Linked DNA regions of Homo sapiens: region 2 is linked to region 1. Evidence: fine-mapped expression QTL. A gene starts in region 1. The other region holds a variant in brackets. All regions are shown on one strand. Distances are from middle to middle.

Evidence for each region. PIP is the estimated chance that this variant, and not a neighbour inherited with it, causes the effect.
Region 2: its variant is fine-mapped to the expression of IL17B in visceral fat (GTEx, PIP 0.92).

Annotation. Positions count from the first base shown.
Region 1 is chr5:149,376,078-149,384,379 of GRCh38, forward strand. It overlaps IL17B (interleukin 17B), which reads right to left and starts at 3,215. Exons shown (of 3, transcript NM_014443.3): 1 at 3,128-3,215; 2 at 659-948. The coding sequence starts at 3,148. It overlaps LOC101927046 (a long non-coding RNA gene), which reads left to right and starts at 6,159. Exons shown (of 2, transcript XR_245875.4): 1 at 6,159-6,275; 2 at 8,114-8,282. RefSeq lists enhancers at 3,463-3,997, 4,350-5,062, 6,489-7,200.
Region 2 is chr5:149,400,288-149,408,627 of GRCh38, forward strand. It overlaps CARMN (cardiac mesoderm enhancer-associated non-coding RNA), which reads left to right and starts at 6,558. Exons shown (of 5, transcript NR_105060.1): 1 at 6,558-6,791. It also overlaps a transcript of IL17B not described here. RefSeq lists enhancers at 4,606-5,196, 7,047-8,047. The variant T/G (reference allele first, on the strand shown) is at 3,917.

The DNA.
Region 1 (8,302 bases):
GAGGACCTCAGGGTCAGCCCTTTCCTTCATCTTTGGTCCTTACTATGGGTCAGGCACTGAGCAAGGAAGCGGAGCTACAACCAAGAGAGGACGCTGCTGCCATCGTTATCCAGGGCAATGGGTCTTGATTCCCAAATCGCAGCCTGCTGTGCGCCCTGATCACGTGGAGCTATAAGAAATAGCACTTCCTGGGCCTCACCGCTGGAGGTTTGGATTGGGCATGGGAATCCCTAGGTGATTCTGATGCCGGCACTGGGAAGGCCCAGGTCCAGCATAAGAGACAGACTGGAACACCGCATGGAAGCGCCACACCTGAGAAGGGCGTCCGAGGCCCACAGAGCAGAGGAAGTGACATCTGGGGAAAGCCTTGCAGGCACTTCCATGGAGACTTGAAGAACAATGAGGGCAGTGCTCTGCATGGATATCTCACTTAACAAGACTCTGAGGTACTACTGTTGCCTCCATTTACATTGAGGAAACTGAGGCCCAGAAAGGCTAATCCATTTGCCCAAAGCCTCACAGGCAAGTAAGAGGCAGAGCTAGGGTTCGAACCCAAGCACCCAGACCTCTGAATCTGAGATCTTAACCATTACAATGACTGGGGCACAGGAAAGGTCCCCACCCCCCAAAGACAGCTTGCCACCACTGCCCAGCCTACCTGTAGCCCCAGGGAGACAGGCTCCTCTTGTTGGACATCCACAGCTGCAAGTTGACCTCACACTTTCTCTGGGCCAGCTCTGAGCTGTTCCTCAGCTGGGCCACCATCTCCTCGATGTTCCTCTCATACTCCTCCATGCGGGCATACGGTTTCATCCGTGACACCAGGTCCAGTGGCACCTGGTGAGGGCCAGGGGCCAGGGGCCCAGGCCGCCCTTGCCCCTTCCTCTTGCTTTTGGGGCTCCTGGGCTGGCCCAGCCCCAGGAAGATGGAAATGGTAAGAAGAAACAGCTGGGGAGGAAAGCCACAGGTCAAAGGTGGGAGAGCCAAGTCTCTATCTGGGCCAAGACTTGGGGTCCATGGTCCTTTCCCATTGCTCTTAGGGGTCTCCCAGGCTCAGGTCTGACTCTGCCTACCATCCCCCAGCTCTCCCTCCTCAGATTACCCCCTGTTTCCTCTCTCTTGTGTGTTCCAGCCTCTGGTCTTCTCTCAGTCTTACACTCAGCATGCTCCTTCCTGCCACAGGGACTTTGCACAGCCTCTGCCTGCAGCATTCTGCCTCTTCACCTCCTGGACACCTTCCCACCCCTCGTGTCAGCTTTAGCATCGCTTTCTTAGGGATGCCTCTGGACTTTCTTGGGCTCTCATAACCCACACACCTCTTGCATGACTTCAATCTTAAAGTTTGTGTATACAATTCTTTTATGTGTCTGCCCCCAACTCAGCATGGACTCCGTGGGGGCACGTGTCAGTTTCCACACACTGTCATATCTCCCGTGTCTGCGTGATGCATTCAGTGAACACTCACTGAGTAAATGAATGGCTGTCCCCATCGCTGCCCTTCTGTCATTTATGTCTAAGAAGGAAGACAGTGAACAAGAAGACAAACACCCAAGTCTCCCTAGCGACAAGTCCAGGATGGGCCCATTCAGGGTGTGGCTGGAGAAGAGTGGGGCCTCCTGCTTAGCTGTGCTGGGACAATGGCCTGGGAAACTTTTCTGGGGAAGGGACATGTCAGGTGAGGCATGGCAGGCATGGGCTGAGGGAGTTGAAGTCTTGCAGGTGTGGGAGGGGTGGGTTGGGGGAAGATGAGAGAGGAGGTTTGAACTGGTTAAGAACTTTGCTGTGGCCGGGCGTGGTGGCTCACACCTGTAATGCCAGCACTTTGGGAGGCCGAGGCGGGCAGATCACAAAGTCAGGAGATCGAGACCATCCTGGCTAACACTGTGAAACCCCGTCTCTACTAAAAATACAAAAAAATTAGCCGGGTGTGGTGGCGGGTGCCTGTAGTCCCAGCTACTTGGGAGGCTGAGGCAGGAGAATGGCCTGAACCCGGGAGGCGGAGCTTGCAGTGAGCCGAGATCACACCACTGCACTCCAGCCTGGGCGACAGAGCGAGACTCCTCTCAAAAAAAAGAAAAAAGAACTTTGCTGAATCGAATGGAATGTTGATTAAGAGTGGGTGGGAGGAAGAGGGGATGAGATGAAGCTGGGGAGATGGGCAAGTTATGGGCTAAGGATGTCCTGTCCGCCTGCACTGCCCTTCTCCCCTGAGCCTTCCCTCTTCCAGCCATCCCCCAAGCCCTCCTCACACACACACACCCTCACCCATTGCCATCCACTTCTCCCTCCCAGCACCAGAGTATCAGGAAAGCCTTTGGCTCACAAGGAAGAGGACTCAGGCCCGGCAGAAGCCAGACTCCCCAGGAATCCAGAGAGAAGGGACAGTGCCTGCGTGTGAGGCAGAGCTCCCAGGATGGAGGCACCTCTGACTCCTCTTAAATTGAGATAGGCTCCATATGTTCCCTGTATGCCTCACCTCACAGCCCCACAGCCCCATGGCCCATGCCTGCTTTATCCAGGCTACCCAGCAAGTCTTGACCCTAGGAAACAAGTTTCAGCAGAGCCCCTCTTGGCAGAGGTATTTGCTGGCACAAAATCTGCAACAGAGATTCAAGTGCTAAATTCTTCCTTTTTGGTCCTAGATTCTAGTGCAGAAAAAATGTCTCCCTAACAATAGGCTCTCTCTTTAGAGTTTCTCACAGGGCATTCTTAAACTCTGGCTCTCCACTCGGAGAAACGTAGAATAGAATCAAAGTCCCCCTCCCTCACTCTCCAGATGGGACACTGAGAAACAGAAGGACTTGCCCAAGGTCACACAGCCAGGACCTCAGAAGCCGGGTCTCTTTGGAAAAACCCCGATAACTGAGTTTGCCGGGATCTCCCCAGACGCCTCTGGTCTGAAAAGGCTTCAGTGTGCCCCGGCTGAGCCCCGTTCAGGAGCCTGCACTGCTGGCCATGGCTACAGTGACCAGTCTCTGTTTCTTTCTAGTCCTGGGGGAGAAGACAGAGAAGTTGCCTCTGCAGATTCTAAACCAAACAGAGGCAGCCATTAATAAATAGGAAAGAAAAACTGACATATTTGGGCTCTTAAAAAGGGGTGGGGGTGCGGCAGGGAAGCGCCACGTACCAGGTTGTGAGGCCAGTCCATTCCGCCAAGCTGCAAGGTCAGCCTGCAGCTGCTGCCCGCCTGGAACCCCAGATGCCGCCGAGAGAATGGCAGCAACAGGATGGAGCGAAGCAATTATAGCTCAACTGGGGGCTGCTGGGGGAGTGAGTGGGTGGGCTCGTCATCAGCTGGGAGCCTTGGGCCCCCAGCTGGCTGAGCCTAGCGCAGTGGCAGGCGGTGAGGGGCGTGGGGGCAGGCCAGGAGCCGAGCTGAGGTGCCCAGGGGCTGTTGACCGAGGGACAATGCCCTGTGTGTCTGGTGGGGCTCTGGCCGGTGGCACCTCCGCCTGTGGCCTGCGGCCGGCCGCCCAGCCAGCACCCACAGGGCCAGCTAAGACAATCAGCTTCGTTTGCTTAGGGGATGGCAAGGGGTTGAGGGTGGAGGAGGGATGGGCCGTTGGTTGGTCAGGAGAGCAAATGTTCTCAAATTGTGCTGGCCAGGAGTGGGACACAGGCCCCATCTCCCAGGGAAACAGCCTCAGGCACTCCAGCCTCTGCCGGCCTCAGGTGAGTTCAGCAGCCCTAGGAGACCAAAGCCCCACCCCTCTAGATCACAGTCAAGGAAACTGAGGCTGGAGCCAGAAAGGGACTTGTCACTATTAACAGTGAGTTAGAGGTGTCAGAGCTGCTATTCTCACCCTGTCCCCATCCAGGGCTCTATCCACCACCCCATGTTGTTTTTCTTGGGAGACTTTCCGCACAATTTCAGCCTGCTGTGAACATATTTCTGAAGCTGTACGCCCTCACTCTGGCCAAGTTTCAGATCCATGAGGACTTACGGCTGATTGTCCTGGCCTTCCTGACACAGCACTCTCCCTCCTGGGGTGGTCTCCGCTCTCAGAGACTGTGTGGCTGCATGTGAGCTTTACTGTCAGCCTCAGTTCCCTCCTCCATAAAATGGTGGGTGTATCCAGAAGTAGACGGTGGCCTGGCCCATTCCCTCCTGAAATCTTTCTGAGCCTCAGTTCCCACATCTCTAGAATGGGAAGAATCATGGCACCCTCTTAAAACTGCTATAAGGAATAAAGGAAATCACCTATGTTAAATAGCTGGCAACAGTACCTGGCACATAGTAAGTGCTCAATAAACACTTAGCTATTTATTATAGAGATTATTATAAAATAATTGTATAATTATTATAAACATTAGTTGTTCTAATTAGCATTAGAGGTAGCATGGTTCTCATTTCTCTACTGACTCTCCCTTCAACCCCCTCAGGCCCACCCTCCTGGCTGCTGAGAGAGGTCTAGGCCTCCAAGATTCAGGCCACAAGTTTGTGAGGTCGGATGACCTCAGGGTCCAAAGGTCCTGGAATCACATGCTCAACTGACCACCTCCTCTGGCCAATGTCTCTCACCTCAGGTGAACAGCCCAGCCCAATGTAAGCGGGCACATCCACCCAGGGAGGCAGGAATGGCGGGAGGGAATGTGAGGAGGACAGAGGAGGGGCATTGTGAACAGATACTGAGGACGGCCCTGTCGTGCTGAGGGCCGGTCTTGGCCATTTACAGGAATCGTCCGAGGGGAAGAAGGCAGGGTGAGAGGCGCTCCTGAATGTCACAAGATTAATCTGTCCGGGGCAGGCTTCCACAGCATAACTGAGATGCTGGCTGGGGCTCGAGCATGAGAGATGCCACCATATTTGGTCAAATACTAGACAGGGCTCTATTCTACCGTTGGAAACTCCAGAGGGAGGGGTACTCTGAAAATACCTCCTCAGGCAACAAGGGCCCCGCCCCCACCGCAGGCTGTCCCAGCCCCAGCCCCACTGGCCGGGCGGCCTGGCTGTGTTCTGTGCTGGCTCTCTGCACACACTCTGCTGCTGCTAGCAGTGGGGTCCCACAGACATGCAACTGGGGTGACCCTCCCATATCCACAGAACAGTGGCAAACTGAAAGATGGATGCTGGGGTATGGGGGACCCCTGAAACCAACACATTCTCCTTACCTGCTGGAAATACGCACCCCTCACTTCTGCCTCCCCAAGCCAGGACTGACTTGTCAGCTTCCCCTGCTCCAGCTGCAGTGCTTGCTACTTTAGATTTCAGGGTCCCAGCCCCAGAGATGCTGAAGTAGCAGCGCAAAAATCTGCATCTTAGCACGAGGCCAGTTTGGGAGCTACACGGGTCCTCACCCATCATCTGGCCCCCTCCTCCCACCCATTTTACTACAAGGAGACTTGGATAAGGGAGGGTCCTACCCCAGCTCACACAGTGCGTTTGTGCCAGAGCTGGGAGCAGAACTCCGTCTCCTAAGTCATTCATTGTTCTTCCCTCAGACTTTATACAAACAGCTCTGGGCCAGGCTGGGCCTCCTTGCTGGTCTGGTGGAGACCAAAGAGGCAGGCCAGTCCTTGTGGGGGCCCCAGATCCTTCACAGTGGGGAGGGGAGCTTTGGGGTCCCCTGGCAGGTGCTGTGAGGAGTCAGGCATGGGCCCAGCAACAGTCATTGGGTTTCCCATTCCTGGACCATCTCAGACCAGGAGGGAGACCCCTTCTTCCAGTCTTGGTTTCTAGAAACCCCTGGAGGGTCATCTGTCCTTTTTGATGTCCTGAGTGTGAACCCAGGCAGGCCTGTGGGACCCAGCCCCAGGACTCAGTGCCAGGCCTGAGAGGGAGGTGCAGGAACTGGGCTTCCAGGGCTCCCACCCCACGAGTGAGGCTGGGGTCCTTGGGTCTTAACACGCAGAGGGTGGTCAGCATGCGTGAATGAAGGACTGGGCAGATGAGCTACAGGGGAAGGGGCAGTGGGTGGCCGCGGTCTCGCTCAGAGCCCTCTGCAGCAGGCCCCGCCAGGAGCAGTGCTGCACTCACCAGCAGATGGCGCCACTAGAAAGCCAGCCAACCCTGAAAAATGTACTGACCCTGAGGGAACTTGCACTCTGCCACCTCTTTCTCCAAGAGCGGCCCGGGACTGAGAATGAGGGGATGGGGCGAGTGGGTGGGGCCCTGCGCCTGTGCCTGGCTTCCAGAGTGACCCTATTGTTGATGAGGACCAGAGCCTAGGAGACATCAGAGCCGGCCAGGAATGACACAGGCGGTGTCGGGGTCACCGATTCCAGGTGTCGGGGTCACCGATTCCAGGGGTCGGGTGAGGGCTTCTGTCTGCTGAGTGAGTGATTGCCTTTACTTTGAGCACCTGCTGTGTGCCAGGCCTCAGGCATTTGGCACCTGGACACCTTAATTCACAGAAAATAACAGTAACAATAATAGCTGCTACTTAATATCCACTTACTGACTGCCAGGCCATAAGCTAAATGCTTCATGAAATCCTCCAAATAACACTGGGTGAGGTCCTAGTTTTATTCTGAATTACAGATGGGGAAACTGAGGCTCAGCGTGGTTAACCACTTGCCCAAAGTCACAGAAGATTCACAGCAAGTTTGTCTGACTCCTGCACACACTGCTCCCTGCGGTGGAGTAAGGAGAGGGGCGGCAGCCAGGGGTGGAGGGGGAATGTCCAGTTGGTCAGCTGGTCATTGAGCACGGTCTGTGATGGCCTCAGCCTTGACCCATGGCCTCAAACAACCTGAACCCGGTAGGTTCGGGTGCTCACTAAACCCACGCCCAAGCCCAAGTCATCAAGGGGATCCGAGAGCTCCCAGGGTGCTCGTGGGGCACCCAACAGCATTCCTGGTATGTGAACTAAAATATTGATACATTGAATCAAACTGACTATAATACAGGGAGGCCATGCTGGGACAGAGGAGGAGGCCAGAGCAGAGGGACCTGGAGAAGGAAGTGCAGCCGGGAGGGCAGAGGTCAGCCTCCACAGATGGGCTGGCCTGAGTTTCAGCCCTGCCCCTGCCCCTTCACTGCTGTGTCATCTTGGGAATGTTAATTGACTTCTCTGAGCCTTAGTTTCTTCTGCAAAGTGAAGATAATAATAACTTGGCTCTCAGTGGATTGTTGTGAGGATCAAATGAGATAATGCACGTTAAAGCGCTTAGCACAGTCCCTGGCAAAAGTAAGTACCCCATTAATGGTAGCTGCAACTGTCATTCCTACAGTTAAAATGAGTTTTGAGTTGGGCCTTCAAGAATGCTTCTAGTACGTTCCTGGGTAGGAAGGGCATTACGAAGTGGGGACAAGGCTAGAACCAGCAGAAGAATGCAAAGGTGCCTATTTCCAGCGGGCCCACCCTAGAGCGTTGGCAAGGCCAGGGGGACCTGAAGGATTTGGTCTAAGAACTTGCCCAAGTGGACCCAGTAAGGTCAGGGAAGGCGGGAAGAGGCTAGTCGGCGCCTTTGCTGGCTGCGACCAGGAGGGTGCAGCCCCCTAGGGAGGTCCTGGCTCTCCTGCCATGCTGCCCTCCCCTCCCTCCCTGGTAGGAGTCCTTCTCCCAGGCCCATATTTGCACAAATGCTTGCCTCGCTGCTCACTCCAGAGCCCCAGCCAAGAGGTGCTATTTTAAGATCCCTGGACGGGAACATTGTTGGTGGGAACAGCCCCAGCCAGCAAGCTCCCAGTTCTCAAAAAAGGGAAAGGCCTGGGTGAATGGGCGGCCTCTGGGGTGTGCAGAGGGGCTGCCACGTCGACATGACCCTCTGCCCAGGCCAGGTGCCAGCGTCTCCTCCCCACAGGGGGAAGTCAAAGAAATGTGAGTTGGGGTAGGACTCCAAGAGGTGGTCTTGTTCACTGGAGACTGGGTCGCCTAGGCCTCTCTTCTGCAGAGCATCCAGACTTGAAAACACCAAGTTTGTGTTTCTGGGTTGCAAATTGACTCTACACTGTACCAAGTCTCTTGTTAGCACTCACCACCCACAGGCCATCAGAGGTAGGGGATACCTCATCCAGCCCTTAGCAAAGCGGGAACGCTTTCTAAGTGCCTTTGCTGGGTATCATCTCTCTAGGAATATCATTTCTCTCTGAGGATGCACAGTCCATTTTTTAAAACTCTGGTTGTTGAAAATAATTATAATTATAAAAGCTTTCTTTTTTATTTTGCAGAAGCCCTCCTCCTGTGGGGAAAGCACGGCAGACTTCAGGCAATGGTGGTTGGACATTTGCCCTGCCCCTTATTATATGGTCATGTCCACCCCCCTCACTTCAGTGGGCCTCCGTTTCCTCACGGGGTTGTTAAAATGCATTAATCATTAAAATTATTGTTTGCCTGGCACATAATGGTACTTAATATTT
Region 2 (8,340 bases), 24 kb after region 1:
TACAAGCCAAGAAAGGCCAAAGATTGCCAGCAAGCCGCTAGAATCTAGGAGGCCTGGAACAGATTCTCTCTCACAGCCTTAGAAGGAGCCAGTTCTGCTGACACTTATCTCGGACTTCTAGCCCCCAGAGCTGTGAGATAAATTCCCATCATTTAAGCCACCCTGTCTGGATGGAGTGTTTGGTTACAGCAGCCCTGCCTGACTGACACAACCGGTCGCTGGCTTTGTGGGTGTGGCAGAGGCAGGAGTGACCTCCTAACCCTGGACACAGCTGCAGCAGTGTATTCTTCACATGACAGTGGAGCTCCCCCTCCAGAGTCCACTGTAGTCAGAGTTATCCAGCTAAACAGAGCCAACGGGATATATAGAGACACAGAAGAGGAGAGTTATCTCGGAAATTGGCTTACATGATTATAAAGGCCAGCAAGTCCCACGTTTTGCCACCTGCAAGCTGGAGGACCAGGAAAGCTGCTGGTATGACTTAGTCCAGGTTCAAAGGGCTGGAGCCAGGGGTGCCACTGGTGTAAGTCCCAGAGTCCCAAGGAGCAAGAACCAGGAGCTCTGATGTCTGAAGCCAGAAGAAGACACATGTTCCAGCTCAAGAAGAGAGAATTCACCCCTCCTCCACCCTTTTGTTCTAGTCAGGCTCTCGATGGACTAGATGCTGCCCCTCTGCATTGGCAAAAAGCGATCTGCATTGAAAAGCCAATCTCTTCCAGAAACACACCAACAGACACATCCAGGAGCAATGCTTTACCAGCTATCTGGGCATCCCATAGCCCAATCAAATTGATACATAAAATTAACCATCACATCACTTCTGATGGCAGTAGAGGTAGCATCTGCCTTGACAGGACAATTTTGTGGTTTTCAAAGTCATTCCCAAGGGTCCTTTCTAGGGCCCACTTCTCTAATTTTCCTAATTGCATAAGCTTCCGATTCCCTGTAGTAAATCCCTTTCTGCTCAAATGAGCAGGAATAATTGCTTTCCTGCACATGGACCCTGACTGGTAAGACTTGATTAGACAATGGACACTGAATTAAATTTTCAATTTTTCACAGTTGCCATACATAAATTCTAAAACAAAGTAAGCTGTCAAGGTCTCGTGGTATGCCTTTTTAAAAGTGATAATTGGACTGGGCATGGTGGCTTATGCCTGTAATCCCAGCACTTTGGGAGGCTGAGGCGGGTGGATCACCTGAGGTCAGGAGTTCAAGACCAGCCTGGCCAACATGGTGAAACCCCATCTCTACTAACAGTACAAAACTAGCCGGGTGTGGCAGCACATCTCTACTAACAGTACAAAATTAGCCAGGTGTGGTAGCATATGCCTGTAATTCCAGCTACTTAGGGGGCTGAGGGAGGCTGAGGGAGGAGAATCACTTGAACCCAGGAGGCGGAAGTTACAGTGAGCCAAGATTGCACCACTGCACTCCAGCCTGGGTGACAGAGGAAGAAACCCTCTCAAATAAATAAATAAATGTGATAATTGCCTAAAAACAAGAAATGCTCAATGAAAATCAAGACAAAAATCAAATACAGAAAACTATAGTGAAGTAAGCCCAAATCACCCCAAATTCCCTCCACCCAGAGATAACTTCTCTTCTTATTTTGTTGAACGTTCTTTCACACATCGAACGGTGCATTTTACATGCACGGTCACATGTGTTACCCTGCACTGTTCAGGGTGCAATTAGTGTGGCCCGGTTTTCCTTGAAACTTCAAGTGTTCAAGCCCCATGTGCTGGTGATAGCAGGAAGTCCAGCATGCAGCCCAGCTGCTCTCTACAGGGTTTTCACTGCCTCCCTCTTACACACAGAGGGTTCCCGTACAGGCGTCTTGGAAGGAGGTGTCCAGACCCATGTGGTCTTGTATCAGTGCACTGACCATGGTGGAAGGACATGAATAACCGAGCAGGAGCTAATCTTGGTGAGTAATATTCGAGTTGTCAGTCAGGTTCACTACTCCCAAAGCAGCCACGGTAGTGGAAGACGGTGCTCCCCCTAGACCAGAGAAGGGCTCCAAGCCAACCACCCAGGGCCCTTCAATGCAAGCCTTTCCCACAAAGATTTGGGAGGACTGGGCTACACCATTGTTCCCCTTCCCATAACCATTCTTCCCTGGCGATCAACATAAAAGGTGTGTTACATCCTTCTCTCAGGACAATGAGTTAATTCACCCTCCCCTGCCATTCCCAAAGATACTACCTTTGGGCACTCCACAGTGACTTCCTGTCCTGGCCTATCTGTGAAGTAGATTAGGGAAGAGACAACACACAAATTCAACCTCCAGCAGGGCGCCTTGCTACTCTCACACTTACCCTCTCCTGACACACACATACGTACACATCATTTGACTTAAAAGGGATTATACAATTTATCTTCTTTAATACCATGCTTTTAAAAAAAAAAAAAAAAAAAGAACAAAAACTCGTGCCGGGCACGGTGGCTCATGCCTGTAATCTCAGCACTTTGAGAGGCCGAGGCGGGCGGATCACAAGGTCAGGAGATCAAGACCATCCTGGCTAACACGGTGAAACCCCATCTCTATTAAAAATACAAAAAATTAGCCAGGCGTGGTGGCACATACCTGTAGTCCCAGCTACTTGGGAGGCTGAGGTGGGAGAATCGCTTGAACCCGGGAGGCAGAGGTTGCAGTGAGCCGGGATCGCACCATTGCACTCCAGCCTGGGTTACACAGTGAGACTCCATCTCAAAAAAAAAAAAAAAAAAAAAAACTCAATAGCAAGTTGTAGACAGTTTTTTGTTTGTTTTGTTCTGTTTTGTTTTGTTTTGTTTTGTTTTGTTTTGTTTTGAGACAAGGTCTCATTCTATAGCCCAGACTGGAATGCAGTGATGCAATCTCGGCTTACTGTAGCCTCTGCCTCCCAGGCTCAAGTGATCCTCCCACTTCAGCCTCCCAAGGAGCTGGGATTACAGGCACAGTCCACCATGCCCAGCTAATTTTTTGTATTTTTTATAGAGACGGGGTTTCACCGTGTTGCCCAGGATGGTCTCAAACTCCTGGGCTCAAGAGATCCTCCTGCCTCAGCCTCCCAAAGTGCTGGGATTACAGGTGTGAGCCACCACGCCTAGCCATGTGGGCAGCTTTCCATGGTATGATGCTTTTGAGAAAATGGTTGGATTGCAAGGCAAATAATTATAGGCATTTCATCACTAATTGTCCATATTCCCACCTCCCACATACCAACTCTACCAACAAAAAAAAAGTTTTATGTTCATTGAAGAGAACATATGGGGCTTGATTTTTAACTCAGGGGTTATGGGCCTTTTCAATATAAAATTGTTTCCCAACTGGCCACCTCTGAGCTGAGCCTCCTGGGTAGAATTAGTGTGAATTCAGGGTTGGAGATTAGGGACAGGTTGGGAGGTGAGAACAGAAAGGGTGAAGTGAAGCCCATACGATCTCAGGGCTGGGAAGGGACTTGCCAAGTTGTCCAGCCTCTGCTTGCATTCCCTTAATAACAGGGAACTCACCACTTTACCAAGACAGCTTGTTAGCCCACTTCATCCTTGGTTAGTTCCACTGGCTTAAAAAGTATTTCCCATGTGGATCTAGATTCCATCTTCCTAAAGGTTCCAACTGTACCAATTCAAGGTCTTCCTTGGTCACTCTGTAGAGAAGTAGAGCCGGCTCTCCCAGGGCCCATGAGTCCTCTATTCTCCTGGACAGGGTCCCCCTCCCCCTGACTAAATACACCATCTGAAAACACAGGACTCAACGATGCAAACTCACTCTCATACTCAGCTCCTAACAGGAACCTCCCTTCACCTCCCAAGAAGCCTTACTCACACATACCAAGCCGCAGTCTGTCGACCTGTTTTCTCTAGGAATGGAGGGATTTCAAGGCTGCCTCTCCCAGTCTGGAAAGAAAAGCCACTTCACAGAATGAGT[T/G]GTTCATAATGTAAAGTGTTCATAACTCCCAAGAGACAGTATGGGCAGGAAATAGAAACAGCTTCCAAATATTTGAGACAGATTTATGGACACTGAGTCACAAATGGCTGCCATATACTTCGCCTTTTGAGCTAGTCTGGTGGCAGAACACCTCTCTCCTGATATTCAAGGACCTGTCTCCAGGTCGCTTCAGTTCCTTGTCTTGCCTCTCGCAATGGGCTTTCTGCTGACCAAGCCCATTGACTCATGGGCGTAGCCGACTAAAGCACTCGGCCAGGTGCAGAGTTTTTGGGCATTTCAATGGTGGGGGTCTCCCCACAGCTTGCACTGCTAGTTTTTCTGTTTGTTCTTGATGACGAACTCTCTACTGTTTATACAGTAGCAGAACTCACAGAAGCATAACTTACGTTTCACAGCCTCCAGAGTGGACTTTACATAAACACGATGTTTCTGTTAGGCCGGCTTTATCTTCCCTCTAGAGTCTGTCAGTGGTGCTTTGGAGTATTCGACTGGGCCACTGTGCAGGGTTGGGGAGTGGTGTCACAAGCCTTCCCTAACCCACCATCTCTGACCTGCACCCCAGGGCATGCACATGAACGGAATTCATCTTCTTGGTTTGGAAAAGAAGGGGGTGACATTAGTGGCGAAACCTCCGTGTAGAGCTCTCGCACCGCAACTCTGAGTCATAGCTTACATCGATCAAGCACTCACTCTGAAGCAGGCTCGGGGCTAAACCTTCACAACCATTGACTCTGTGCTACAGAGGAGACAGTGATCTTCACAGAAGTTAGTTCCCAGAGGGCTTTCCCCAGCCCCACCATTGGGAGCAGAGGGGCAGGGCTGAGCCCAGTCTCACTCGAGTCCTGCTCACACCTTCCTCCAGGACTGCACGGGCCACCTCGCCCAGCCCTCATGGCAATGCTGAAGGCAGGTGTGATTCTCGCCATTTTACCCAAGGGGAAAGGGAGGCACCGGGGGAAAGGGAGGCTGGGAGCGGCAGACCTCACAGCTAGGAAGTGGCCAAGGCAGGAAGAAGCCCACCGGCCTTTCAACACCAACAGAATTCTTTCCTCAGAAGGAATGAGGGAGGGTGGAGGGGTAAGGACATGGCATTTTTAATCCTCCTGTTGGACTGGGAGGCTCTCAAGGTCAGGGACAGTGTCTGATTCAGCACCCCACCCCCTCGGGCCCTCAACTGGCCCCACTCAGGATGTCACAAGGCCCCGTGTGCTGCTGGAGGGGGTCCCAGGGTCGGTGACAGGCAGACCACAGCCTCTGGCCTGGAAGGAGGAGAGAGGGATTGGCAGGCCCATCCAGGCTGGGGGTCTGAGGAACTGTGAATGAGGCCGTGAACAGAGACCGCTGGGGTCCAGCAGGCCTGGCTGCAGAAGGGAAGCTCTGCGCAGTGGAAGGCAGGACCCGGTGGCAGCCCTGGGAGCAGGCCCCGCTGGCCCCTGGGAGAAGACCTCCATGGGCCTCAGCACGACACTCCTAGGCTGGCAGCCGAGGCCTGGTTCACGTGATCCCTTGATTTGTGTTTTCTGACCTTTCTTCACAGACACTCTAGGAAGCCTGGGGACACAGAGCCTGCCAGGGGAAGTCACACTCTCATGAAAGAGCTAGCCAGCAAGAAACTAGAACCGTGGACATGTAAGATAGGCACATGCGTGGCGAGTCCGAAGCGGGAAGCAAGCAGAGGGTGTGACAGAATACTGAGGGGGCCAGGGAATGGCTCTTCCAGAGGAGACTTCTGAGTGGGAGACAGGAGCAGGGGAAGGAGCAGCATGAGCTCTGGGAAGAAGGCATTTTTGGCAGCGAGCAATGCAAGTGCAAAAGCCCTGAGGCATGAAAAACACTAAAGAATCTGTAGGAGGCCAAGGTGGCCAAGCAAAAGGAGAAAGAGGGACTCCGGCAAGAGATGGGCATTTCTCAGGACTGCGGTGGCAGGGAAAAGAGAGCCCCCTGAAGGACATTCCACATTCAAACCCCTGCCCTGTGGTGACCCTGCCAGGTGGCTGGGTCAGGATCTTCCCTGTCAGGCCCAGGCCTCGTTTGCATGATGATGGGAGTAGCTTCCCACGGTCTGGGCTCTCCTTCCCCATGTTCTCCTGTTCCCCCAATTCCCATCACCCAGATTCCAGGAGCCAGGACTGGTGTCTCCCCTACTGGAGGTTCCCAGAAAGTCTCAGAACTCCCACTGCAGTCCTGGGACACAGGGGCTGGGGGAGGAAGGAAATTCTCACACAGCTTTCTCCCAGGGAGTTTGCTCTTGTTCCCAGGCTGACAACTGGCAACCCTCAGAACTCTGTTCCCCACCCCCTTCCTCCTCCTCCTCCTCCTCCTCCTCCTCCTCCTCCTCCTCCTCTCCCTGCCTCCCTCTCTCCCCTGCCCCCCTTCTCAGGCTTAATGACTTCCACATGGGCCTCTGGTGGCTGGAGCCAAGGCTCCCAGCATTGTCTGAAATCTCCAAATTTAGAAGAAATATGAAAATTGTCAACCACTCCTTCCTTAGGGGGTAAAAGCAACATTCAGCACCGGGGGCAGGTCAAGGCAAGGTAGTCACGTGGGGGGTGCCTGGGCCAATGGGGGGCCCTGGGAGGGCTCAGCACCCGCCTCGCCCCAATACGGGGCTTGCCTCTTCAGCTCATATAAGGTAAAAGGCAGAGTGGCCTCTGTGGCCAGGGAGCCGCAGGCAAGGGACTAAGGGGAGGGGGGCTCAGTGCCAGCTGCTTAAAAATGCCCCTGTGGCAGCGAGGGGCACCAGAGGCTGGGTCTAATTAGTTGAGAAGCAGTGACACCCCCAACCACTCCCCAAACAGGCTGGCTCCCGTCTCCAGGCCCCAAGGAGCCACACCTGGACCAGACCCCAGGAAAGGTAAGCACCAACGGCAGACCTGGGATCCGTGGGTGGGGGCCTCTGGGAATTTCCCTAGGGGGATGCTGCATCTGGGGGTCTTGCTGTCTTGCTAACTGGCTCTGTCCCTTTCTGGACACAGATTCTCTGGGTCTCAGTTTCCCCATCTGTACAGGGGCTGGAGTCAATGATCTCTAAGCATCCATCCAGCTGATCGGCTCTAGTTCTATGGTCCTGTTGGCTTCTAGGATTCCTTGTTGTTGTAGTCAATTGGGGGAAGAAGGTGCAGAGGGAGTGCACAGAGTTAACATCCTATCAGCCCAAGCTTCACCTCGGCACCCGAGTCTCAGGCAGTCTCCCTGGCTTCTACATAGGCAGTGCTTCTTCCTCATTGTGTGGGGCTTTGATTTTGTAATTCCAAGAGCCTGGGGCTCCTGGCAAGGAAAATGGTTTTCAAATAATGGTTTCGAGAAACAAAGCTGGGGAAGAGGCAATGTAAGCTCAGGCTCTGGCAGGCAGGCAGAGATCCTGGGAAGGCTGGGTGCTGACTGCACATGGAGCAATGGGAAGGGATGCTGGTGAGAGGAGACGGGGGCACTTAAGCTCCGGCCCCAGCTCTGCTCTCAGTGCCCGGCTCTGTGGTCTTGGGCTGGCCCCCTCCCTTCTCTGGGCCATAGTTTTCCCATCTGTATAGCAAGGCCATTGGACAAAATGGTCCCTCTGCAGATGTGGCTTCTGAGTTGTTTGTGCCTGAGGGACAGCCAGTGTTGGGAAGTTCCCCCAGGAGGTCCCTGAGCCGAGTCTGAACTTTGACCACAAGCTTGGAGTCCAAGCAGATGAAGTCCTGTGGGAGCTTTTGGAGGTTGAGCCTGAGTGAGGGAGAGTAGCTGAAGGTTCTGTGACTGAAGGCTTGGCCAGAGGGGTGCCCCGAGCCCTCCAGATGAACTTGGCTGCAACCAGCCTCTGGTGGGGAAAGGACTGATCTCTGGATTCAACCACACAGGAATGTGGGACATGGAAGTAGGTAAGGGATGGAAAAGATGGCAGAGGGCTTCGCGGGATGAAGCAGTGGGGCCAGGGGACTTAGAGGAATGCAGGAGGCTTGTGATGGGAGGCAGGGCTGGGTAGAGGCAGGGGCTTAGGATTGGAACTTGAAGATGTACAGACAGCATGGAGTCGGGCTCCTCTGAAAACACTCTGGCCACATCCGGAGCCCAGAACAGAACAGTCCTCTAGCACCGGCCTCTGTCTTGTACCCTCCACCTTCCCGCTTCTTGTCACACAAGACCCAAGGCCATCATGGTTCAGAAGGAGGCTCTGAATTCAACTGCCTGGGTCCAATTCTGGCTTGTTTACTTACTGGACAAGTGACCCTGGGCAAGTTGCTTGCTGTTTGAGCCTCAGCTTCCTCCTCTGTAAAATGGGTACAATTCTGAGCTTGCATGGTTGTCATGAGGAGTGAGGGATGTAGGCACATAGAGCAGGATGAATGGGGCTGATGTTACATCGCAGTCAGAGCCCACACCTCCTGCGGGCAAGATACCCTGAGCTATGTTGAGGGAGAAGTGGG